Linked DNA regions of Homo sapiens. The protein of the gene in region 4 purifies or fractionates together with the protein of the main gene of each other region. This does not show direct contact. Each region holds a gene or a part of one and is shown on either strand. Other genes may lie near its edges.

Evidence for each region.
Region 1: the proteins of GIP (region 4) and OLFM2 purify together in Homo sapiens (affinity purification with mass spectrometry; one large-scale study listed by BioGRID and IntAct). This does not show direct contact.
Region 2: the proteins of GIP (region 4) and ARSK purify together in Homo sapiens (affinity purification with mass spectrometry; one large-scale study listed by BioGRID and IntAct). This does not show direct contact.
Region 3: the proteins of GIP (region 4) and TTC4 purify together in Homo sapiens (affinity purification with mass spectrometry; one large-scale study listed by BioGRID and IntAct). This does not show direct contact.
Region 5: the proteins of GIP (region 4) and GNPAT purify together in Homo sapiens (affinity purification with mass spectrometry; one large-scale study listed by BioGRID and IntAct). This does not show direct contact.
Region 6: the proteins of GIP (region 4) and STK26 purify together in Homo sapiens (affinity purification with mass spectrometry; one large-scale study listed by BioGRID and IntAct). This does not show direct contact.
Region 7: the proteins of GIP (region 4) and CFAP410 purify together in Homo sapiens (affinity purification with mass spectrometry; one large-scale study listed by BioGRID and IntAct). This does not show direct contact.

Annotation. Positions count from the first base shown.
Region 1 is NC_000019.10:9,856,516-9,860,015, reverse strand, and holds part of OLFM2 (noelin-2 isoform 2 precursor), read left to right. Parts: intron 1-1,840; exon of another isoform or gene 1,841-1,919; intron 1,920-2,154; coding exon 2,155-2,301; intron 2,302-2,533; coding exon 2,534-2,753; intron 2,754-3,102; coding exon 3,103-3,209; intron 3,210-3,500. UniProt on the Homo sapiens protein: Involved in transforming growth factor beta (TGF-beta)-induced smooth muscle differentiation.
Region 2 is NC_000005.10:95,561,601-95,565,100, forward strand, and holds part of ARSK (arylsulfatase K precursor), read left to right. Parts: intron 1-3,500. UniProt on the Homo sapiens protein: Catalyzes the hydrolysis of pseudosubstrates such as p-nitrocatechol sulfate and p-nitrophenyl sulfate. Catalyzes the hydrolysis of the 2-sulfate groups of the 2-O-sulfo-D-glucuronate residues of chondroitin sulfate, heparin and heparitin sulfate.
Region 3 is NC_000001.11:54,732,861-54,736,360, reverse strand, and holds part of TTC4 (tetratricopeptide repeat protein 4), read right to left. Parts: intron 2,733-3,500; coding exon 2,651-2,732; intron 1-2,650.
Region 4 is NC_000017.11:48,962,097-48,965,596, reverse strand, and holds part of GIP (gastric inhibitory polypeptide preproprotein), read left to right. Parts: intron 1-1,116; coding exon 1,117-1,287; intron 1,288-3,500. UniProt on the Homo sapiens protein: Potent stimulator of insulin secretion and relatively poor inhibitor of gastric acid secretion.
Region 5 is NC_000001.11:231,261,712-231,265,211, reverse strand, and holds part of GNPAT (dihydroxyacetone phosphate acyltransferase), read right to left. Parts: intron 2,490-3,500; coding exon 2,360-2,489; intron 1-2,359. UniProt on the Homo sapiens protein: Dihydroxyacetonephosphate acyltransferase catalyzing the first step in the biosynthesis of plasmalogens, a subset of phospholipids that differ from other glycerolipids by having an alkyl chain attached through a vinyl ether linkage at the sn-1 position of the glycerol backbone, and which unique physical properties have an impact on various aspects of cell signaling and membrane biology.
Region 6 is NC_000023.11:132,064,802-132,068,301, reverse strand, and holds part of STK26 (serine/threonine-protein kinase 26), read right to left. Parts: intron 88-3,500; coding exon 1-87. UniProt on the Homo sapiens protein: Serine/threonine-protein kinase that acts as a mediator of cell growth. Modulates apoptosis. In association with STK24 negatively regulates Golgi reorientation in polarized cell migration upon RHO activation.
Region 7 is NC_000021.9:44,332,891-44,336,390, forward strand, and holds part of CFAP410 (nuclear encoded mitochondrial protein C21orf2), read right to left. Parts: intron 2,915-3,500; coding exon 2,868-2,914; exon of another isoform or gene 373-2,867; coding exon 143-372; intron 1-142. UniProt on the Homo sapiens protein: Plays a role in cilia formation and/or maintenance. Plays a role in the regulation of cell morphology and cytoskeletal organization. Involved in DNA damage repair.

The DNA.
Region 1 (3,500 bases), on a different chromosome or scaffold from region 4:
CGTGTGCCACCACGCCCAGCTAATTTTTTTATTTTTAGCAGAGATGGGGTTTCACCATATTAGTCATGCTGGTCTTGAACTCCTGACTGCAGGTGATTTGCCTGTCTTGGCCTCCCAAAGTGCGGGGATTACAGGCGTGAGCCACTGCGCCCTGCCTGTTCAATGCTTTTTTGGGAGAGAAGCCAAGCACTTACTGGGATTGGGGTGGGGGGAAGGAAGGAAGACTGGAGGGGCAGCATCTGAGTCTCCTGTGTGTGAGCTCTGGTCCACCAGGCATGTCCCACCCAGCTTTGCAGTTCACCAGACTCACCTACTAAGAAGGAGTTCTGTGCCCCTTGGGGAGGGTCTAACCCTCCACCTCAAGAGGCTCCTATAAAAGTTTCCTTCTACCTCTGATCATGGTCAAGAGAAAATAGTCCCCTGGGCCGGGCGTGGTAGCTCACGCCTGTAATCCCAGCACTTTGGGAGGCTGAGGCATGTGTATCACTTGAGGTCAGGAGTTTGAGATCAGCCTCTACCAAAAATACAAAAATTAGCCGGGCGTGGTGGTGTGTGCCTGTAGTCCCACCTACTCGGGAGGCTGAGGCAGGAGAACTGCTTGAACCCGGGAGGTGGAGGTTGCAGTGAGCTGAGATGGCACCACTGCACTCCAGCCTGGGCAAGACAGAGCAAGACTCCATCTCAAATAAATAAATAAATAAATAAATAAAACTTACAAATTGTTGATTTCTGGAATTTCCCACTTAATATTTTTGGACTGTGGTTGGCCTCAGGTAGCTGAAACGTGAAACTGTGGAGAAGGGAAGAGTATGTAAAAATGTTTTGTGGCGTTCAGGGTGGGTATTAGGCTGCTGAGTTTCTGGGAGTTTCCAAGTGTCATGTGAATAATTGTACAGGAAAGTCTGTATTTCAACAAGCATCCAGTGGTAACTCTGACTGAGTTTACCTTAGCCAGGCAGAGTCCACTTTAGTCAGGTGAAGCTGGTGGGAATCTACCTTAGCCAGGTGAGAGTCTACCTTAGCCAGGTAAAGGTCTACCTTAGCCAGGTGAGGGTCTACCTTAGCCAGGTGAGGGTCTACCTTAGCCAGGTGTTCATCTTAGCCAAGTGAGAGTCTACCTTAACAAGGTGGGAGTCTACCTTAGCCAGGTGTTCACCTTAGCCAGCTGGAGTCTACCTTAGCCAGGTGAGAGTCTACTTAAGCCAGAGATGGAGTTCACCTTAACAAGGTGGCTACCTTAGCCAGATGTTCACCTTAGTCAGATGGGAGTCTACCTTAGCCAGGGGGAGTTCAACTTATCTAGGTGGAGTTCACCGTAGCCAGGTGGAGGTGGGAGCTGGGTGCTCTCAGGTTGGGTCAGGAGAGGCCAGGGCAAGGGAAGTTTATTTTACTCATTCAGCCAAAAAATACTTATTGGGCCTCTACTCCAGGCCAGTGCTGGGCACTGGAGGTTAAGCTGTGGACAAGCTAGACGCAGCCTCTGCCTCTGAGGGTCCCACCTGAAGGAGGCAGATGGATAAGAATGTTCTACATAGTCACAGCTGGGAAGGAAATGACCAGGCAAGAGGAGAGTGAGTGAGCGGCTACCGGACAGGGTGGTCAGGGAAGGATGCTTTGAGTGGGGGACGCTGGAGCTGAACCCTGAAGGATGAGAAGGAGCCAGCCATGGGAACTTGGGGGAACAGCACTCCAGGTAGAGAGACCAGCAAGTGCAAAGACCCTGCAGAAGGAAGGAGCTTAGAGTCTGTGAGAACAAAGAGAGAGGAAGTGGGTTGGGCGGGGGGGGTGGGCAGGACCAGCCAGCACAGGATCTGTGGAGGAGGAAGGTGATCTAATCTCTGTTTTGAAAGTTCCTTCTGTCTGCTGTGTAGAGAATTGACTACAGGGGATGAAGGTGGAACTGGGAGACTAGGGAGGAGGTGAGAGGTGGTGGTAGGTGGACCAGATGGGAGCCAGTGGGTAGTAGGGAGGGAGCGATGGATGGATGGATTGGGCACGCAATTGGGAGGCTGCTGGTAAGCTCAGGGGAGGAGAAGGTGGCCTCGTCGGTGTGGTGTTTGTACAGCCTCTGTTCCTGCCAGCTCTTGTCTGTGGCATCTCTGGGTTGGGATTTGGGGAAGGAGGTCTGGTCCCTTCAGTTGTCCCCATTCCTAGGTCCAGAACGTCTCCCAGTCCATGGAGGTCCTTGAGTTGCGGACGTATCGCGACCTCCAGTATGTACGCGGCATGGAGACCCTCATGCGGAGCCTGGATGCGCGGCTCCGGGCAGCTGATGGGTCCCTCTCGGCCAAGAGCTTCCAGGTGGGTCCTCCTGTGTCCAGACCAGAGGTCAAACAAATGACTGGGATTTGGTATCCATTAGTTCCTACAATGGAGTCATGTCTGGGAAGAATCTAGGGTCCAATATGAGCCACATGTCAAGGGCCAGGTGTGCATCAAAGACAAAGGGTGAAGTTATGAGTCAGAGGTTGGAGTCATGTCTGGGTCAAAGGCCAGGGGTCAGGCTTGGCCATGGTTCCATCTTGATGCACAGGAGCTGAAGGACAGGATGACGGAACTGTTGCCCCTGAGCTCGGTCCTGGAGCAGTACAAGGCAGACACGCGGACCATTGTACGCTTGCGGGAGGAGGTGAGGAATCTCTCCGGCAGTCTGGCGGCCATTCAGGAGGAGATGGGTGCCTACGGGTATGAGGACCTGCAGCAACGGGTGATGGCCCTGGAGGCCCGGCTCCACGCCTGCGCCCAGAAGCTGGGTATGCCTTGGCCCTTGACCCTGACCCCTGATCTCTGACTGCCACACCCAACTCCAGTATCACCTGTTTGTGCCTAGAAGCTGGACACAGTTTTGACCTCTAACTTTTAAACCTCAACCCTTGACCTTCCTACCTAAGGCTACACTTGAGTCCAGAAGCTGGAAATGGCCCTGACCCTTGGCCTCTAACCCCTCACTCACAACTGAACAACATATTGGGACCAGATTTTTGAGTCTTCCCTCATCCCTGGTCCCAGCTTTCCCAACTTGATCACAGCACTTCATCTTTGCCTGGCCTCTCTTGGGCTGTTCATTTCCCCATCCTCATTCCCCCTGTTCCTGCCTCCCAGGCTGTGGGAAGCTGACCGGGGTCAGTAACCCCATCACCGTTCGGGCCATGGGGTCCCGCTTCGGCTCCTGGATGACTGACACGATGGCCCCCAGTGCGGATAGCCGGGTGAGTGACTGCGCCCACCCCTGGGGTCAGGGCCTGGGAGGGACAGAGCCTTTGACTGCCCATAGGTGCCTAGGGAGTCCACACTGGTGACTGTCTTGTAGCCCAAAGTGTCCTGGATCCCCCAGGGCCATTGGACCTCCCTGTCCAGTAACCCCCAAGTGACCAAGGGCTTTGCAGCCTTGTGAATCCCACTCTGTTGACCTCCAGTGTCTGTATAGTGGCTAATGGTTACTGAGTTCTACTGACCAGTTCTCAGGGACTACTGACGTCCAAGTAACTACCCAATGACCA
Region 2 (3,500 bases), on a different chromosome or scaffold from region 4:
TGAAACTTAAAAAGATTATGCTAAATGAAAGAAGCTAGTCAAAAAGGACCACATATTGTATGATTCCATTCATATGAAATGTCCAGAAAAAGCAAACATAGAGCCGGAAAGTAGGTTAGTGGTTGCCTAGGCTTCAGGAAAATAGAGAGTAATGGCTAAAGAGTGCAGAATGTCTTTTGGGGATGATGAGAACATTCTAAAATCGACTATGGTAATGGTTGCACAGCTTTCTGAATACACTAAAAACCATTGAATTGTACACTTTAAATGGATGAGTTGTTTAGTGTGTTAATTATATCTTAATAAACCCATTTTTAAAAGAACAGAAAACAGGCTAGGCACGGTGGTTCACACCTGTAATACCAGCACTTTGGGAAGCCACGGCGAGCAGATCACCTGAGGTCAGAAGTTCGAGACCAGCCTGGCCAACATGGTGAAACCCCATCTCTACTAAGAATACAAAAATTAGCCAGGCATGGTGGTGGGCACCTGCCCAGCTACTCGGGAGGCTGAGTCAGGAGAATCGCTTAAACCTAGAATACAGAGGTTGCAGTGAACCGAGATTGTGCCACTGGACTCCAGCCTTGGTGACAGGGTGAGTCTCTGTCTCAAAAAAAATAAATAAAAATTTAAAATTAAATAAATAATAGAAAAGAAGCATCTCTGCCTGGGTCTTAAAGGACAGAGGCATCTTCTGCATCCCCACTCCTACTCCTACCTCTACTCCCTGCCACTGCACCTGTATCAGTTTTAGTTTTGCTGAGGTTTCAGGAGTGGCAGGGGAGAGTAGGTACAGGAGTGTTTACTAGAGAGTCTAGTGAGAATCTCATTCAGTCTGATGGACAGATCTGGGAAGAACACTATAAGCAGTCTTGCCATGCTGACATGGCAAATTAAAGTTGCTGTTACATTCTTTTATTAGGATGATTAATTCAAACCTAAACTTCTCTGATTCTGCATGGCCCATAATGATAAGGAACCGAGTACAAGCCATGGTTCAGAAGGAGCAATCAAAATCACAAAATTGTATCTACAAAAAGACTTACCCACCCCAAGGGGGAAAAATGTGTGGACCCATGAGAATTAATTAACAAGAGCAGAATGCAGCAACTAAAGGCAGTTGGTACCATTTCTGTAACTTTTGCAGAAAGCCAATTAATGGGTCATTTTTATTTCTTAAATGCCCAATTTTAGAGTGCTTAATTTGTTTGAACCATAGGAATGGCCTTGAGAAAATTGAAATGGGCTATTAGTAAGTTATAGAAGTTATAACAAAAGCCATTTTTCAAGATTTTCTCTGCCAACTAAATTTGACAGAACTGTGTTTTCACTTATAACTGGCTATCCATTGTAAACCACATTAACATACTATGGAAAACTTACTTTCTCTCTTTTTCATCAGCCAGCTGTGTTAAGATGCCTTTCAGTTCAGAATGAAATATTCTACTGACCGTCTCCCATTGATACCATTATCAGCAGTACTAGTAGTAGCCTAGTTTTTAAATGATTTGTTAGTGTGTAAAAACTACATGAAGTCAAAAACCAAAACTTCTAGAAAATTTTTAAATATTTTCTCTAATAACATTTTGGTCTTCGTTTAGAGTATTATTGATATTTCTGATATTGAGAATATGTATATCATAATTTAAATATTTCCTAGGAACCAAATTTTGCAATTGATATGCTTAATCCAGTTTATTAAGCTTTGCAAAAATACACTGTTGAATTTTGAGCATAAATTTGTCTTCTTTTTTAAATTGAACAAATCTCTGGATTAGAGATTCATTTCATTTCATTCACTGAATATTTGCATACCGCTCACTGCCTTATATATATCTCAGACAGCAATCTTAACATAGATCACCTTTCACTGATGGAATCGTTGGGAACTTTCCCACATGACGGCAGTCGCCCCCTCCCTTTCTGGTTATCTCTGCCACTATATTTCAAAGAGTCCTGCTTTCCAGCCTGCTTTTGATACAGATAATGTCCCTGTACTAGTCATAGAGATGAGTCAAGAAATCACTAACATCGATTTTAATCTGACACATTAGTTATTGATATGCTGCAGTAGTCATTTGCAGTGGTAGTTACACCAATTTGAACCTAGCCTGCAGGACTTGGAGTCCAAATCCCAATATGTGAATTATATAGCACCTTTAAGACAGTTCTACCTTGTGACCTTCTGCTCCATCCCCCAACCAGATAAGCCTGGGTTGTCTAGATTCTAGGCAGTGGCCACAAATTGTTATCTCCCCATGTTCAAAAGATTGTAACCATAAGACATATATACATTTGGAATTTGTGAGGATAAATTTCTGAGAATTTGAATTTAAGGGCTTAAAGAAATTCTCATGAGGGAGGGCTATGCACTTTTTTTTTTTTTTTTTTTTTTGAGATGGAGTCTTGCTCTGTCACTCATGCTGGAGTGCAGTGGCGCCATCTCAGCTCACTGCAACCTCTGCTTCCCGGATTCAAGTGATTCTCTTGCCTCAGCCTCCCGAGTAGCTGGGATCACAGGCACCTGCCACCACGCCTAGCTAATTTTTGTATTTTTAGTAGAGACAAGGTTTCACCATGTTGGCCTGACTGGCTTTGAACTCCTGACCTCAGGTGATCTGCCTGCCTCAGCCTCCCAAAGAGCTGGGATTACAGGCATGAGCCACTGTGCCTGGCCACTATGCACTTTTGTCTTCGCCTTTCTAGCTCATCATTGAGGAAATCAGTAGTTATTTGCTTAGCATTCAATGATTACTCTTGCTAGAAGTGGTAATTTATTTTGACATAAGACATGCATAATTTTCCCCATCTTAAAAAAAGAACTGACTTTAATCCCACATTTTCTTCCAGCTAACACACCATTCTCTAACATCCCTCCCGTTTTTCTGTTTTGCTTTGCAAAATAACTTCTCAGAAGAGCTTTTCTTTTTTCCCCCTGCTGCCTCACTTTCCTGCCTCCCATTCCTTCCCCTTTCCAGTTTAGCTGTTCATCTTTACCACGCATCGAAAGTGCTCTTGTCAGGGTCACCAGCTGTCTCCATACTGCCAATTCCAATGTGCATTTTCTGGCCTCATTTCAGGTGCATTCTCAACACAGCAGATGTTACCTCTTTCTTGGCACACTGCCTTCTCTCAGCTGTCATGGCACTCGGTCTCCTCACATCTTCCTCCCTTGGCCATTCTTTCTCAGTTTCCCATGCTGTTTCCCCTCTTATTTGGGACTCCTTATAGCTTCCTCTAGACCCTTTTCTTTCCCCTCCTTCTCTCTCCCTGAAAGGTTTTATTTAATCTCACAGTTTTCAAAACCATGAATATGTTAAATACTCCCAAGTTTTATTTCGCCAAGATAGACTTCTCTCAACTCCAGATTCCTATCTGTATCCAACAGCCTACTTTATATCTCTATTTGGGAATCTCAGCTATCTCAAGGATTTAGATATATTCTATATTTTGGGTTGGCTCATGTTCTAAACTGGAATTTATTTATAATTATGTTGAAA
Region 3 (3,500 bases), on a different chromosome or scaffold from region 4:
GAAGAAAGTCATTGTTACAAATATAGAAAGGGAGAAAAAATCCTGTGGATGTTGAATTAAGAGTTGGAGATACCAATGAGACTTCATGGTCTCTCTCTCTCTCTCTCCTCTCTCCTCTCTTCTCTCTCCTCTCCTCTTCTCTCTCTCTCTCTCTCTCTCTCTCTCTCTCTCTCTCTCTCTCTCTCCTTTCTTTCTTTCTCTCTCTTTCTCCCCCAAGCTGTGGCACTGAGAAGGCATTGAGGCAGTAAGCTTGCCTCTCTACCCCCATTGTATTAATCGATACACTTATACACTTATTGCACAGAGATCTCGGCTTCTAAATACCATTCTTCACTAGAAAGAACCAGGGCTTCTTGGGAAAAAATAGCTAATTCCAGAGCTGGGGCAAGGAAAGCGCAATCTGAACCTAGAACATCCTATGTAAGAAAGCAACCACTTAAAAAATAGACACAAGTCAAAAGGACACAGAAACAAATTTGAAGAGATTCCCACTGGCCAAATCTGGGATATTCTGAGCATAAAAGAAACAATCATAGTAACAGATTAAAACTCATTAAATGAAACAGGAAACTATAAATCCACCAATATAAATAAATATGTTGAATATCTGACGAGCAATGGGATATTTACACCATTTCAAAGCATCTCCCTATAAAACACTTATTAATCATAAAGAAAAAGTAACTGTACAGTGGAGAAGGCTGGCAGACCCCACCTCAATCAGGTGATCAGAGTGAACATCATGAGTAATGGGACAAATGGAGATTATGTACCATCTGATAGGTGCAATGAGAATACAGCATCACTTCTGTAATATTCCAGCCAAATATGCATAATCCAGGCCGGGCATGGTGGCTCACACCTGTAATCCTAGCACTCTGGGAGGCCAAATCGGGCAGATCATTTGAGGTCAGGAGTTTGAGACCAGCCTGGCCAACACGGCAAAACCCCATCTCTATTAAAAATACAAAAAATTAGCTGGGCGTGGTATCTGAGTAGCTGTAATCCCAGCTACTCAGGAGGCTGAGGCAGGAGAATCGCTTGGACCTTGGAGGCAGAGGCTGCAGTGAGCCGAGATCACACCATTGCACTTCAGCCTGGGCAACAAGAGCAAAACTCCATCTCAAAACAAACAAACAAGTATGTATAATCCAAATCTAGTCAGAAGGAAACATGAGACAAACCCATACTGACAGACATTCTACAAAATAAGTGGTCTGTAATCTTCAAAGTGTCCTGCAGTTGAGTCACAGGATCACAAAAATATGAATAAAAATTTTTTAAGTAAAAAAAAAAAGTGGAGGAAAGACTGAGGAGCTCTTCCATACTGAAGGAGACTAAGGGGACATGATCACTAAATACAGTATGTGATTCTGAACAAAACCCTTTTGCTATAAAGAATTTGTGAAACCTGAATGGAGTCTGAGGGTTAGATGGTAACAGTGAATTAATGTAAATTTCCTGCTTTGATAGCTATATGGGTATTATAAAGAAAAATGTCCTTTTGTGTAGGAAATACACAGTAAAGTATTCAGGGGTAATGGGACATCAGCTGGCATCCTACTCTCAAATGTTAGAAAAAGGTAATTCTTTATACTGGATATTGTGATTTTTTATTTAAAAAATCCCAACAATGGAATGTTATTCAGCCTTAAAAAGGAAAGAAATTCTGGCTGGGCACGGTAGCTCACACCTGTAATCCCAGCACTTCTGGAGGCCAAGGAGGGCGGATCACTTGAGGCCAGGAGTTCAAGACCAGCCTGGCCAACATAGCAAAACCCCATCTCTACTAAAAATACAAACAAAATTAGCCAGGCTTGGTGGCACATGCCTGTAATCCCAGCTACCTGGGAACCGGAGGCATGAAAATCACTTGAACCAAGAGGCAAGGTTGCAACGATCTGAGATTGCACCACAGCACTCCAGCCTAGGTGACAGAGCGAGATTCTGTCTCAAAAAATAAAAATAAATAAAAAGGAAAACAATTCTGGTTGGGCATGGTGGCTCACACCTATAATCCCAGCACTTTGAAAGGCGGAGGTGAGTGGATCACTTGAGGTCAGGAGTTCGAGACCAGCCTGGCCAACATGGTGAAACCCCATCTCTACTAAAAATACAAAACTTAGCTGGGTGTGGTGGCACGCGTCTATAATCCCAGCTACTCAGGAGGCTGAGGCAGGAGAATCGCTTGAACCTGGGAGGCAGAGGTTGCAGTGAGCCAAGATCGCACCACTGCACTCCAGCCTGGGTGAAACAGCGAGACTCCGTCTCAAAAATTTAAAAAAAAAAGGAAATTCTGACACATGATACAATATGTAATGAACCTTGAAGACATTATGCTAAGTGAAATAAGCCAGACATAAAAGGACAAATACTGTATGATTCCACTTATATGAAGTACTTAGAGTTTCAATTTGGGAAGATGAAAAAGTTTTGGAGATGGCTGGTGGTGATAGTTGCACAACAATGTGAATGTACTTAATGCCACTGACCTATATACCTAAAAATGGTTAAAATGGTAAATATTATGTCATGTATATTTTACTATAATTTTCAAAAAAATAAAGCAGACTGCTTCCCCCGCCGCAAAAAAAAAAAAAAAAAAAAAAAAAATTAATTCCATAGAGGAACGAAATAAAACTTCTCTTACCTCCAAATTATCAGGGCAATATTTTTGCTCTAGGTCCCAAGAGGGTGTTTCACCAAACATCACCATTAGATGATCAATAAACCTAAGGATAAAACATGTACTTTCTGGGTATCAATAACTCATGATCTATTTTCCCACATCGGTCCCCAGACACTAATTCAAAGTTATCTAGAATGTATAAAACATGAAATGCAGGCTTAACCCATTTGACAGCAGTACCCCAAATGTGTATATGTATCACTTGTCCTATTATGACATAATTTTATTTTATTTTATTTTATTTTTTTTTTTTGAGACAGGGTCTCGCTCTGTCACCCTGGCTAGAGTACAGTGGCATGATAACAGCTCACTGTAGCCTCGACTTCCGGGCTTAAGCAATTCCTCTACCTTAGCCTCCTGCATAGCTGAGACTACAGGCACATGCCACCATGCCTGGCTAATTTTTTTCTTTTTTTTGTAGAGATGGGGGTCTCCCTATATTGCCCAGGCTGGTCTCAAACTCCTGGGCTCAAATTATCCTCCTGCCTCAGCCTCCCAAAGTTATTGGGATTACAGGTGTGAGCCCTGCACCTGACTGACAGGATTTTCTTTTTTTCTTTTCTTTTCTTTTTTTTTTTGAGACAAAGTCTTGCTCTGTCACCAAGGCTGGAGTGTGGAGTACAGTGGAACAATCTCTGCTCACTGCAACCTTCACCTTCTGGGTTCAAGTGATTCTCGTGCCCCAGGCTCCCAGACAGCTGGGACTACAGGCATGCACCACCATGCCCGGCTAATTTTTTATATTTTTATTAGGCACGGGATTTTGCCATGTTTGCCAGGCTGGTCTTGAACTCCTGGCCTCTAGTGATCC
Region 4 (3,500 bases):
GTCTCCCTTTGTCACCTAGGCTGGAGTGCAGTGGCGCGATCTCCGATTACTGCAAGCAGCGCCTCCTGGGTTCACGCCATTCTCCTGCCTCAGCCTCCCAAGTAGCTGGGACTACAGGCGCCTGCCACCACGCCTGGCTAATTTTTTTGTATTTTTAGTAGAGACGGGGTTTCACCATGTTAGCCAGGATGGTCTCAATCTCCTGACTTTGTGATCCACCCACCTTGGCCTCCCAGAGTGCTGGGATTACAGGCGTGAGCCACCGCACCCAGCCTTTTTTTTTTTTTTTTTTATTGAGACGAAGTTTTGCTCTTGTTCCCCAGGCTGGAGTGCAATGGCACGATTTCAGCTCACTGCAACCTCCACCTCCCAGGTTCAAGTGATTCTCCTGCCTCAGCCTCCTGAGTAGCTGGGATTACAGGCATGTGCCACCACGCCTGGCTAATTTTTTTTTTTTTGAGACGGAGTCTCGCTCTGTCTCCCAGGCTGGAGTGCACTGGCGCAATCTCAGCTCACTGCAAGCTCCGCCTCCCGGGTTCACGCCATTCTCCTGCCTCAGCCTCCCGAGTAGCCGGGGCTACAGGCGCCCACCACCATGCCTGGCTAATTTTTTGTATTTTTAGTAGAGACGGGGTTTCACTGTGTTAGCCAGGATGGTCTCGATCTCCTGACCTTGTAATCCGCCCGCCTCAGCCTCCCAAAGTGCTGGGATTACAGGCGTAAGCCACCACGCCCTGCCAACGCCTGGCTAATTTTTGTATTATTAGTAGAGACGGGATTTCTCCATGTTGGTCAGGCTGGTCTCGATCCCGACCTCAGGTGATCCGCCTGCCTTGGCCTCCCAAAGTGTTGGGATTACAGGCATGAGCCACCGCCCCTGGCCCCGTGATCTCTTTTTGCCCAGAATCCAGAGCCACACACACTGAGGCTGCAGGAAGTGGGCCCTGGAGCTGAGGATAAAGCCTGGGGTGGGGTGGGGGAGTGGATCCACAGGGAGTCTCCATAAAAACGGACTGGTTTGTTTTCAAGTGTCTGCCTCCTGTTAGTGACAGTCATTTACCCTAGCATTGTGATTCTCCCCCCATCTCTGCCCCTTCTCCGCACCCTTGTTTCCAGCGCTCTCCCCTCCCTGCCTGTTGGATCTCATGCTAAGGTGAGCAGCCCTCAACCTCGAGGCCCCAGGTACGCGGAAGGGACTTTCATCAGTGACTACAGTATTGCCATGGACAAGATTCACCAACAAGACTTTGTGAACTGGCTGCTGGCCCAAAAGGGGAAGAAGAATGAGTGAGTCGCTGCTTACACTCCTCCTGTTCCCTGTGCCGGGCTCTGCCTTCCTACCTTCAGAGGAGGCCACCGGCTGTGGCCACACAGGCCACATGATGCACAACCCCAGGTGGCACCTTTCTTTTTCTTTTCTTTTTTTTTTTTTTTTTTGAGATGGAGTCTCACTCTTTCGCCCAGGCTGGAGTGCAGTGGCGCGATCTCGGCTCACTGCAAGCTCCGCCTCCCGGGTTCACGCCATTCTCCTGCCTCAGCCTCCTGAGTAGCTGGGACTACAGGCAACTGCCACCATGCCCGGCTAATTTTTTTTTTTTTTTGTATTTTCAGTAGATACGGGGTTTCACCGTGTTAGCTAGGATGGTCTCGATCTGACCTCGTGATCCACCTGCCTCGGCCTCCCAAGTGCTGGGATTACAGGCGTGAGCCACCATACCCCGCCTCTCTCTCTCTTTTTTTTTTTTTTTTTTTTTTGAGACAGAGTTTTGCTCTTGTTGCCCAGGCTGGAGTGCAATGGCGCAATCTTTGCTCACTACAACCTCCACCCTCCACCTCCTGGATTCAAGCGATTCTCCTGCCTCAGCCTCCCGAGTAGCTAGGATTACAGGCATGTGCCACCACGCCTGGCTAATTTTGTATTTTTTTGTTGTTCTTTTGAGACGAAGTCTAGCTCTGTTGCCCAGGCTGGAGTGCAGTGGCTCGATCTTGGCTCACTGCAACTTCCACCTCCTGGGTTCAAGCGATTCTTCTGCCTCAGCCTCCTGAGTAGCTGGGACTACAGGTACGCGCCACCATACCTGGCTAATTTTTTTTTTTTTTTTCAGTAGAGACAGGGTTTCACCATGTTGACCAGTCTGGTTCTCAAACTCCTGACCTCGTGATCCGCCCACCTCAGCCTCCCAAAGTGCTGGGATTACAGGCATAAGCCACTGCGCCTGGCCTAATTTTGTATTTTTAGTAGAGACGGGGTTCCATGTTGGTCAGGCAGGTCTCGAACTCCTGACCTCAGGTGATCCACCTGCCTTGGCCTCCCAAAGTGCTGGGATTACAGGTGTGAGCCACCACACCCAGCCTGGGTGGCACCTTTCACCAGGCAAGGATGGGGAGTCAGACATGGTAGCTCTGGCCAGGACCCTGACTTGGGCACCAGTCTAGGCTAGGGGTAGGGACCAGGGCTATTCCCTAATCCTTTACTTCTTTTTTTTTGAGACGGATTTTTTTTGCTCTGTCACCCAGGCTGGAGTGCAGTGGCACAATCTTGGCTCACTGCAAGCTCCGCCTCCCGGGTTCACGTCATTCTCCTGCCTCAGCCTCCTGAGTAGCTGGGACTACAGGTGCCCGCCACCATGCACGGATAATTTTTTTGCATTTTTTTAGTAGAGACGGGGCTTCACCGTGTTGGCCTGGATGGTCTCGATCTCCTGACCTCGTGATCTGCCCTCCTCGGCCTCCCAAAGTGCTGGGATTACAAGTGTGAGCCACTGTGTTGGCCCTAATCCTTTACTTCAAAGGGGAGGAGTCAGAAGATGTATGGGAGCTCAGAGAGGATCCCCAGGGGTCTGAGGATGAAGCAAGGGAGAGACGAGCTCCTTCTAATGACTGCTTGCTTGGCGGTGGCCACTTTAGACTTTGAAAACAGGATTGGCTAGGGCCAGGCCCAGTAGCTCACACCTGTAATCCCAGCACTTTGGGAGGCTGAGGCGGGCAAATCACGAGGTCAGGAGCTTGAGGCCCTCCTGGCCAACATGGTGAAATCCCGTCTCTACTAAAAATACAAAGATTAGCTGGGTGTGGTGGCACGTGCCTGTAATTCCAGCTACTCGGGAGGCTGAGGCATGAGAATTGCTTGAACCCTGGAGGCGGACGTTGCAGTGAGCTGAGATTGCACCACTGCACCCCAGCCTGGCAACAGAGCGAGACTCCGTCTCAAAGAAAAAGGAAAGAAAATAGGATTGGCTGTTCATGGTGGCTCACACCTGTAATCCCAGCACTTTGGGAGGCCCAGGTAGGTGGATTGTTTGAGCTCACGAGTTCATTCGAGAACAGCCTGGGCAACATGGCAAACAAAAAGTACAAAAATCAGCTGGGTGTGGTGATGCCTGCCTGTAGTTTCAGCTACTCGGGAGGCTGAGATGGGAAGATGGCTTCAGCCTGGGAGGCAGAGGTTGCAGTGAGCTGAGATGGTGCCCCTGCACTCCAGCCTGGGCAATACAGCCAGA
Region 5 (3,500 bases), on a different chromosome or scaffold from region 4:
TTATATTTTATTATTTTATTTTATGAGACAGGGTCTCGCTATGTTGGCTAGGTTGGTCACAAACTTCCTGGCCTCAAGCAGTCCTCCTGCCTCGGCCTCCCAAAGTACTGGGATTACAGGCATAAGCCACTGTGCCTGGCCTAAACTCAAACATTATTAAGAAAGATTTCATAAATGTAAGACACCCCTATGATATTATTATACTTTGACATTAAAATACATAAGAGATACCTAATAGAATTATAGAAAAGAAGGGATTCTGTGGGCCAGGTGCTCACTGGGAGGTTACCTTGTGCTTCTCCATGCACCACTCCCTTTACAAGTAGGCCAGCTAGAGCCAGGGGCAACAGCAGAGCAACATGACAATGTCATGATGTCAATGTCTTTAGTCAGCCATGCTGCTGAGCCTGACAACAGACCAATATGTGCCCTTCATGCTCTGGACAGCCAGGCCAAACCCGCTCTCATCTTTTGCCTACCAGGAAAAAACATCAACCTACTTTTGTTGGAAGAGATTAAATAAGGCAAATCTTGTAAGAAAGGAAGATTGCTACCAGCAGTTTTAAAATAGTCTTTCTCTTCATTTCCCCTAGTTTTCAAATAACTTCCTCACAAGTTTGTTCAGATGAAAATGCTTTTAAAGTGCTTAAGTTCTTGGCAGTTTTAACCTTACCATTCACTGCATTTATTAACAAACGTGTATACTTGAATCCTGGCTTTCCTGGCTACCCTAAAAGGGAGTGGATAAACAACTTATATGCCTTAGCAATCCCACTTTTAGGAATCGATCTTACAGGAATAAAAGCACCAATATAAAAATGTATTATGACATTGTTTATAACAGCAAAACTACTAAATTATGAAATATCCACACTGCTGAATATTATATGGCTATTAAAATTAATGTTAGACATGAAGTTGGACCCTTAACTTACACCATATACAAAAATTAACTCAAAAAACCAAAGATCTTAATGTAAGACCTGAAACCATAAAACTCTTAGGATAAAACATAAGGGAAAAGCTTCATGACCTCGGATTTGGCAATGATTTCTTCGATCTGATACCAAAAGCACAGGGAACCAGGGAACCAAAGAAACAAATAGATCAATTGGACTACATCAATTAAAAACTTCCATGCATCAAATAACACAATCAACAGAGTGAAAAGGTAACCCATGAAATGGAAGATAATATTTGCAAATCATCTGTCTGATAAGGGGTGAATATCCAGGATGTAGAAACAATTCCTACAACTCAACAAAAAAAGCCCCAAACAACCTAATTAAAAAATAACGGACTTGAACAGACATTTCTCCAAAGATATACAAATGGCCAATAAGCACACAAAAAAGATGCTCAGCATCACTAATCATTAGGGAAATGCAAATCAAAACTACAAGGAGATACCACTTCACACTCATTAAAATTATTATAAAACATATCAGAAAATAACAGGTGTTGGCAAGGATGTAGAACAACTGGAACTCTTGTGCACTTTTGGTGGGAATGTAAAATGGTGCAGCTGCTAAGGAAGGCAGTATGGTGGTTCCTCAAAAAATGAAAAAAAATTACCACAAGACCCAGCAATTCCATATATACCATTTTTGTATATATATAAAAAAATGGAAAGCAGGGTCTTGAGCAGATGCATTTCCAACTTCAAAAAGGAAGGAAATTCTGACACATGCTGCAACATGGATGAACCTTGAGGGCATTCTGTTAAGTGAAATATGCCAGTCACAAAAGGACAAGTACTGTATGATTCCACCTATATCAAGCATCTAGAGTAGTTCACAGAGACAGAAAGTAGAATGCTGATTGCCCAGGGTCAGGGGGAGGGTAGAACGGGGAGTGTGTTGAATGGGTACCATTTCAGTTTTGCAAGATGAAGAGTTCTGGAGATGGATGGTGTTGATAGCAGCACAACAATGTAAATGTACTTAATGCCACTGAACTATATTTTTGAAGATGACTTAGATGGCAAATTTGATGTTATATGTATTTTATCACAATTAAAAATAAACTTTAAAAAGTTAGATCTATTTATTGCCTAGAGAGGTAGCCATTAATATATTATCAAATAAAAAAAGCAAAAGGCAGCTAATACCTGTAAGTAGTGCAGTCTCATTTTTTAAGCCTACACCAAAGAACCCTGTGTGCATGAACTCCTGCAGATGTCTGTTCAGGCACAGTAAAGCACAGGACAAAGGACATAACTCAAGTTATTCAGTGCTAGGACTGGAAGAAAGGAGGAGAGGCTATTTTCATCATCATCTTCAAATACCTCAGTACTGCTAGAATATGCCAGTGAACTTTTTAATTTTTACAGTTAAAAAAACAGAAAAACAATACATACCCATTCCTGCTGCTATAACTGGCACAGGCAAATCATAATTGTATAGAAGAAAAGACAACATGAGGAAGTCAATGTAACTTCGATGACTAGGCAGCAGAACAACAGGATGCTCCTGGATGGCTCTTTGTAGCTTGAAAGTAAATGTTACATTTTGAATAATTTCAGTTGTCATGTTATCAAATCACATCTCAAATCAGAAAACGGAAGAATAAGTCTATATTTAGAGGGAATACCCATCCTCTTTTTCTGCCTTTTTGCCATACACATAAACGATTTGCTCTGATAAGGTAAAAGTACTGTTTCTAGTTAAACAATTTCACATAATGCAAGAATATTAAAAATGTAAATTTTTATGGATCAGAATAATAACAGTGATGATCGCTAACATATATTAGTTGGGCACTATATTAGCATCATTTTATATACAGTTATCTTACGTGCTTTGTTTAATACCACATAATTAACAAGGTCTAAGCCTTAGCTTTCTTGTTTGTAAAATGGTCATGCATCCAATAAATGGCAGAGCTGTGAATGGAACCCAAGTCAGTCTGACTTAAAAAGCCAACTGTTAACCACTGTATTGAATTGGTTGGTTGTAGTAAGAGAAAACAAAGCTTCTCTTGGAGAGATTAAAAAAAATCTACAAATTCATAGGACAAGGTGAGAAGAATGGTATTTCTCTATGTGCTGGACTCACTGCCAGGGTGAATGGGTGTCATGTGGCTGGGAGGGATAATTTGAGTTTCCAAATATACTCCTCAGGCCATCAATCTCAAGATTCACTGGTATCCATGTGTTATCTGTTTTTTTGAAATCTAAATGTAACAGAGGCCAGGTAATCTGTGATCATCACTTAAGAAATGGCTCACCACCACCCTTGGTCCCAAACACTGTAACATTCTCTGACAGATTCAGGGTATAAGTCAGCAATCTCGAAAACAGTCAGTAGGAAGAAGAAATATTTGACAGGAAAGTAAATGACTGAATTAAAACAAAATATTAAAAGGGATGAGGAGGAAGGCAAGTGAAGTTAAGAGCTTTCCTAGAAGAAAAAAATATAAAACACAAATAAGTAAAAATACTCTTCATAAGGAAAGCTCTTTATGAAATTAGAAAAGTCATCATTTGGCAATCATTAACA
Region 6 (3,500 bases), on a different chromosome or scaffold from region 4:
CTTTTCTGAATGCAGATAGTCCAGACCTTTTAAAATTTCCTTTAGCATGGTAGCAATCTGGAACTCATCAAATGGACCAGCTCGAAGCTTAAGGGGAAAAACACACACACACATACACATATGTGTAAAAGTTTGGAAACATAAAATTCAAAATTGGTACCTTTGAAATGAAGAAATCACTTAGACACATGATGCCGTTCTGTTTATCAAACCAATATCTAAACAAGGAAGGAAAAATGTAAAATGTGAAGGAAGAAAGCAAAAGAGTTCAGTCAAAGGGCTGAACAGGTTTTTTAATGATTCAATTTAATGAAAGATAATACGAGCCCTTTTACCTATATACTAGGCTTCAAATTCTGAGGTTCCTGAATATTTACATCAAAGATGAAACAAATATGCTTACGTAATGACAGAACCAACTATCTGTTCTTTAGATGGAAAAAAAGAGAAATCAGCTACTTAAATTCAGGCAATTGCTGTGAAAAAGTTACTACATATTGACACGAAACTGATTTTTAGGTCAGAGAATCCATAAGATTTCCACAGCAACTATTTGATCATATCAGTCAGCATTTATGTATTTTAATAATATTGCAAAGAATAGCCTTTTTGAGACTCAAATTGTAAATTTAGCCAAGAATATAATAATTAAACTATTCAGACTATGATGGTAAAAAAAAATTAAATCATGGAGGGATAATGTTTTTCAAATAAATGTAACACATATCCCTTTATTTCCCCATCCCTGTACCAAAGCCAATAGTTCCAACTGGAATACAAGGAAAGCAATGATTAGGTTTCAGGAGAACTTGTAATGGAATATCTGAAAATCCCTCTTTAAAATAAATGGTTATTTTAAAATTCTGGTACCTCATAAAGCACAAACAGTGGACTGTACAATATTATTACAGGAAAGGGTGGGAATCTAAAGTCAGAGCAGAGGTAGAGTTCTGTTTGCTTCTGGAAGGAGGGAAGAGGTGGTGAAAATCAAACATTGCCCACTCTGCCTCACACTGGGAGGGATCCACAGCTCTTTGGCACCTTGTGTATTTCATCTTTCATGAATGCCATATTTATGCTGAATAAAGGGCACTTTCATGTTGAAATTTAACAGCTTAAAATAGAACTCATACTTTGGTCTCACCATCTAATATTAACTGTGGTCTGGGTATATAGTATACTCCAGGGATATCTGTAATTCAATAGGTCCCTTTCCTAGGTAACATTATCTACTTACTTTCAAATCTATCAACTTCCACCCCAAAGTTTCTATTCAAACAGTAGTGATTAAAATAGTTTCTAAAGTCTTCTAGAAAGGTTGAAAATGGCATACTATTTTGTTGATGGCTGGCAATGAACTTCTGAGGTACTACAAAATAACTAAAGGACAAATGTCACACTACTTAAGATCAGTAATTAGTATCATCTGATCACAGGACATTGGCAAGACCAGGGGAGGTATATCCTTGGTTATTTCAGTGATTGGGCAAGATTAATGTACGACCTACTAGCTATCATTCTGAAGGACATGTAAAAGTAACATAAATAAGCCAGTATATTACCTAATACAGAAGTTTTTAAAAATATTTAAGTAAAAACAACAAAAAGGGGATCCCAAAGATTCATGAGCTTATCTGCTATATTTTAGGTTCATGTTAAAATTCAATAAAAGTGAAATCTCAATTAACTGGGTGCTAGAGGAGGATGGGAAGAAAGACTCTGTGGCAGGGAGACTTCTCCATTTGAACTTTTCTCCGATAACTGAAGAACTTGCCATGTCTCTAACAGATAATATCTCTGTCCCAGGGCAGTGTACTTGCCTTGTGTAATTTGCCTCTGTTGTCAAGTAAGAATATGCAAGAGAGGGACCTTGACTCTTTCGAAGACTGTACATTTGTGAGCTCATGGATCTTTGTCACAATTTAACTTCCAGCCAGTCCCTAATGCAGTCTGCTATTTTATGCCCTCTCTTATGGTTAGCATATTGTTTCTTTTTTCTTGGGGCTCATGTTTTATTCTAGTCATCTTATTATATGTGTTTTTGTTGCAAGCCACCACGATTCTTTTTGGAAAGAAGTGGAGCATAATAAACTCAATAAAATGATGTGCAATATACTCAAAGTCTGCTCACATACAATAAATTGTTTTTCAAGAATGGGAGTGACTCAAGGTAGACACTGTATAATGTTAACATAAATGACAAGTTGTAATCTTATGTTATTCCATTAGTTAGGTACCAGGCACCAGTTTAATGTGAGAAACACTCTCTGCTAAACATCCCTCTTATTTCCTCTTGTTCTTAGTAGCAGAGCCTTCCTCTACACCTAATCCTGTCTTAGATTCCCCCAAATGATAGCATTTATTTGTACAGGAATATACATGAAAAAGGAATAGCACATTTTCTCATTATCTGCTCTCCCTGTAAAGTCTAGTTAAATGAGTTTTATAATTAAATCACAATATTATTGAATTTTAGAGCTAAGAACACAAAATTAGAGATTACTGATTCAATTTCTTCATTTAACATGTGAATAAATTAAGACACAAGGAGGCTAAAGGGCCGCCCAATATTTGCCAGGCAGTCAGTGTTAGCACTGGGTTTATGACCTAGGCCTTTTGATTCTTAACCAATACAGTACTAACAACATTTTTCATTCATTGAAACTGTTATTAATGGCTATTTGTTTTATTAAGTAGAGTTCAGAATAGCAGGATGAGATTAAGATCTCACAATCATTTAACTTGGAGATTTCATAAAACTGACCAAACTACTAATAGGGGACACAGATTTGGGTCATTGGTTGGGGTTAGGCCAGTGTTCACTGTTTAACATTGCTATCAGTGATCCTGTTGAACAGAGTGGCCTAGCTTTGCCAGTGCTTCCAAAATGGGGAAGAGATATGGTGAGCACCCTGAGGAACCAGATAAGACAACTGATAAATTTGGAAAGGGCTCTTAATATTCAAAAAATGGAAGGAGGATCATGAAACAATTGAGAGGCTTCTTGTAGAGCTAATGAAAAAACTATTGAATAATATGACTCTGTGACAAGACAAATAGAAATGAGATCATTTAACTTCAAGAGGAGAATGAAGCCTGACTCCATATGCATGAAGGATTATTACACAAAGAAACATCAGTGGTGTTCTCTCACTAGAGACGAGAGAAAAAAAATGAACTCAGGCTTTAGGATATAAGAATTAGATTAGACACAAGGAAAGATTACCAAATTCAGCAACTGATTAAACTGACATGAATTCCTAGTAGTAGATGAGGCTCTCCATCAAGTTTAATTACCATTTCTTTAAAATGGTTTAAATATGGTTCTGCCTAAAGGAAAGAAAATCTCTTATAGTCATTTCTGTTCATAAAATTATTTGAAGCTTTGAGTTACTGGCAGTCAAGGTTAAAGCCTTTTAAAAATATTTAATCACTTTCAGTTAGGAAAACTCATCTCCACCTAAAAAAATAAGAATTAAAATATTACTTGATTATTTTAA
Region 7 (3,500 bases), on a different chromosome or scaffold from region 4:
CCTCTGGAGGAGACTTCACAGGACACATCTATGTCCCGCCAGACCAGGTATTTGCAGAAAAGGAGAAGAGAAAAGAGGGCTGGGGACATCCCCTTCCAGGGATTGTTTTGGGAGGGCCGGTGACTCCGCTGCGGCCACCTACCCTGGTTGTCCAGCTTCTGTAGGCGCGGCAGGGTGCGCAGCACGGTCATGCGGTAGCGGTGGGGGCTGGTGCCGCAGCACGGGTTCTCGGCCAGCCACAGCACCCGCAGACGCGGCAGCCCCTTCAGGTAGAAGAGCTCAGCCAGGCTGGGGATGCGGTTCCTCCGCAGGTACAGCTCACTCAGGCGCTGGCACCGGCTCACAGGCTCCAGGGTGGAGATGCTGTTGACACTGCACGGAGACCAGCACAGTCAGCGAGGGACGTGGCCAGGGCCCCCAGGGCCACCTCTCAATCCCCACCCCCAGTAAAAGGCACTCATGGGACCTGTGTCCCTGCCCTCTCCTGAGAAGCCTAAATCGGATGTCACAAGTCACGTGCAGCAGGACCTGGGCCGAGGAGAGAGCTGTAGGAAGGCCAGGCCCTGAACTCAAAGGCGGACTGGGGTGGACCCCACCAGCAACAGCCCCTTGGCCCGACGCTCCACATCAGCTCCTCAGGGCGCTAGAGTGCGGGAGGTGGGGGATGTGGCCCTCCTTCACAGGTGAGGAAAATTAAGGCCTCTCAGGGGACATATCATGTTGCCCCAAAGCAGGGAGCGGCCAGAAAAACTCATGGCAAAAACTAGGAGCCAGCTCCACGTGACATGGGAGTGAGCACGGACCTTCCAAACCCCCACTTGAGGGCGGCAACACTGGGGATGGGCCTCATTTCCATTCTACAGAACGTGGACGCGTCAGAGAAGAGAAACAGCAGGCCTGGAGCGGGGACCTGCAGGCTTTACCCTGCAGCGTGGGGTCCGTCCCCTCCACAAGCGAACACGCGGAGCCGCTCCCGCAGGCCCTCAAAGGCGCGGAGCCAGGGCCCCCTGCCTGGAGGGCTGCACTCGCGTCCGGCAGGCGCCTCAGAAGGGCGGTCACCAGGCCCCCATGGGCAGCCTGCCGTCCTGAGCCCCCCTCCCCATGCCATCCCTTCACTCGGGGTTTCCCAGGTCTCATGCAGCTCCTAGCTATGAGGCCGCCCCATTTTACCAAGAGCAAAACTCCGGCTGTGGGACTCTTTCCAGGATGGGGTCTGCCTCAGGCACAGGCAGCAGCGTGATGTACCGACCGCGTCCGCGGCCTCGAGGCTTCCTGCTCCGCTCCAGTGCAGTCAGGCGTGCAGGCACCACGCACCTGAGCTCGGTCAACACCCCTGGGGTCCTGTCCCTCCCGAGATGTGACAGAAATGGCCCCACACACGAGCGGCCTGATGCTCGGAGGCCCTGTGGCCCCTGGGTGACTCAGTGAGCGGCAGGGATAGGGCTGGATCCACAGCCCCGCCCCAAGCTTCCTGCCACCGTGGGAACCACAAGCTCCACGTTTCCCTGTCAGGTAAGCCTTTCGGAGGCAGGCCTGAAATCCCAGCCTCACTGTGTCGCCTGACTAGTGAAACGAGCCCCGCGGCAGGCACGCGCACCCCCCCTCAACCTCTGGGCGGGCACGCGCACCCCCCCCCCCCCCCCGCTCAACCTCTGGGCGGGCACGCGCACCCCTGCTCAACCTCTGGACTCGGGCTCCATCTCCTCCTCATCTCCCTGTGGGGTGGGCACTTGTAATACCTCCATGTTACAGAAAGGAAACTGAGGCACAGAGAGGGCCATGCCTCGCCCAAGGTTAGCCAGCCAATAGATGGGAGGGCTGAGATTTGACCCATGAGCATGCCTCCAAGCCCATTTCATTCATTCAGCAAGGCTCGGGCAGGACAGGCTGGTGCCCGCGCTGGGGATGCCTGAACACCAGATGGACTGGCCTCAGCCCATGGCGGGCAGCAGGCTGGGCACGGGCATCAACATGGCAATGCCAACCTCAGAGGGCATTACGGAGGATGGGCAGGGGCTGGCCTACCCCGTGGCTGCCTGTGAGATCAAGAAGGTAGGTCACAGTCAGGGACCAGGGGCCTGCAATACCCACTCTCAGAGGGCAAGCCCTAGAGACTTCTGAGCTGCCAGAGGGGTGGGCCTTCCCCACAGGGTTTAAACCCTTGTGAGCTTTTAAATGCGGAAACCCACAGAAGGCGCCCATCCAGCGTCTGGTGGGCAGTGGTGAGCCATGAGCGTCTGCTCCCTCCGTGGGTCCCACAGTAGGCAGGAGGGAATTCAGGGATAAAGGGAGCTCTTCTCTTCCCCAGAGCCCCCAAATACACCCCAACTGCCTGAAAGTCCAGTAACATTTGTTCATTCAAGCTTCCCTTAGTCTGCTGGGAGGGCAGTGACCCCAGAAGACGGGCACAGGTCATGGGGTGCAGAGAAACTGGTAGGCAGTGGTGGCACTGGGGGGCAGAAGAGGCCAGGACTCTGGGGGTCCCAGGGCAGATGTGGCCACCGTGGGGGCGGCCAGGGCGGGCCACCGTGAATCCTTAGGAGGGCTCCACCACCGACTGGCCCAGTGAACACAGCAATGGCTTATCGGAGCACACAGGCCAAGGGTGGGCAGGCGTACAGCAGGGCAGGCAGGGGACAGGAGCCATCAGGAGGCCCAGGTGAGGCTCTGAGGAAGGAGGGCTGAACATGGGGGCCACAGGGTAGGCCCAGCTCTCGCTGTCCCGGCCCCTCCCCTTCTGGAAGCCGCCCTCAGTCTGTGTTGGAGGTTTCCAGGTTATGTCACAGTGCTGGGTCCCACTGGAGGGACGTGAGGCTCTGCCCCGGCTTCCAGGCCCCAGGCTGAGCATGACAGCAGGAGCGAGGTACCTGAGCGTGATCACCTCCAGGCTGGGCATCTCCTGGCAAATGGAGATCTAGGAGGAAAAGAACATGACTAGCAAGCATGGCACAGCAGGGCATCGCGGCCGCACTGCCATCAGCCACAGAGAACTGTCGAAGCCACGGCCAACCCACTTCCGGGGCCTGAGGGGCACGGCCTTACTCAGCCAGTGTGCCCAGGGTGAATGCCCAGGGCCTGAGGGGAGCGGCCCTGCTCAGCCAGTGTGCCCAGGGTGAATGCCCAGGGCCTGAGGGGAGCGGCCCTGCTCAGCCAGTGTGCCCAGGGTGAATGCCCAGGGCCTGAGGGGAGCGGCCCTGCTCAGCCAGTGTGCCCAGGGTGAATGCCCAGGGCCTGAGGGGAGCGGCCCTGCTCAGCCAGTGTGCCCAGGATGAATGCCCACGAGTATGCCAGGTTCTCCTCTGACACCACCTTGCAGCCCAGACGCCCCGCAGACTGAAGGAGAAATGTGAGGCTCCTCCTTGCACGCACTCTGTCTTTATTAAATTTTACGACAGCATCGTTGCTGTCAGATGCTGCCAGCAGTGGAGACAGAGCATTCATTACTTTAGATGCCCTCAAAGGACATCAGGTAAGGGGACCCCAATGTCCCCTACGCAGGG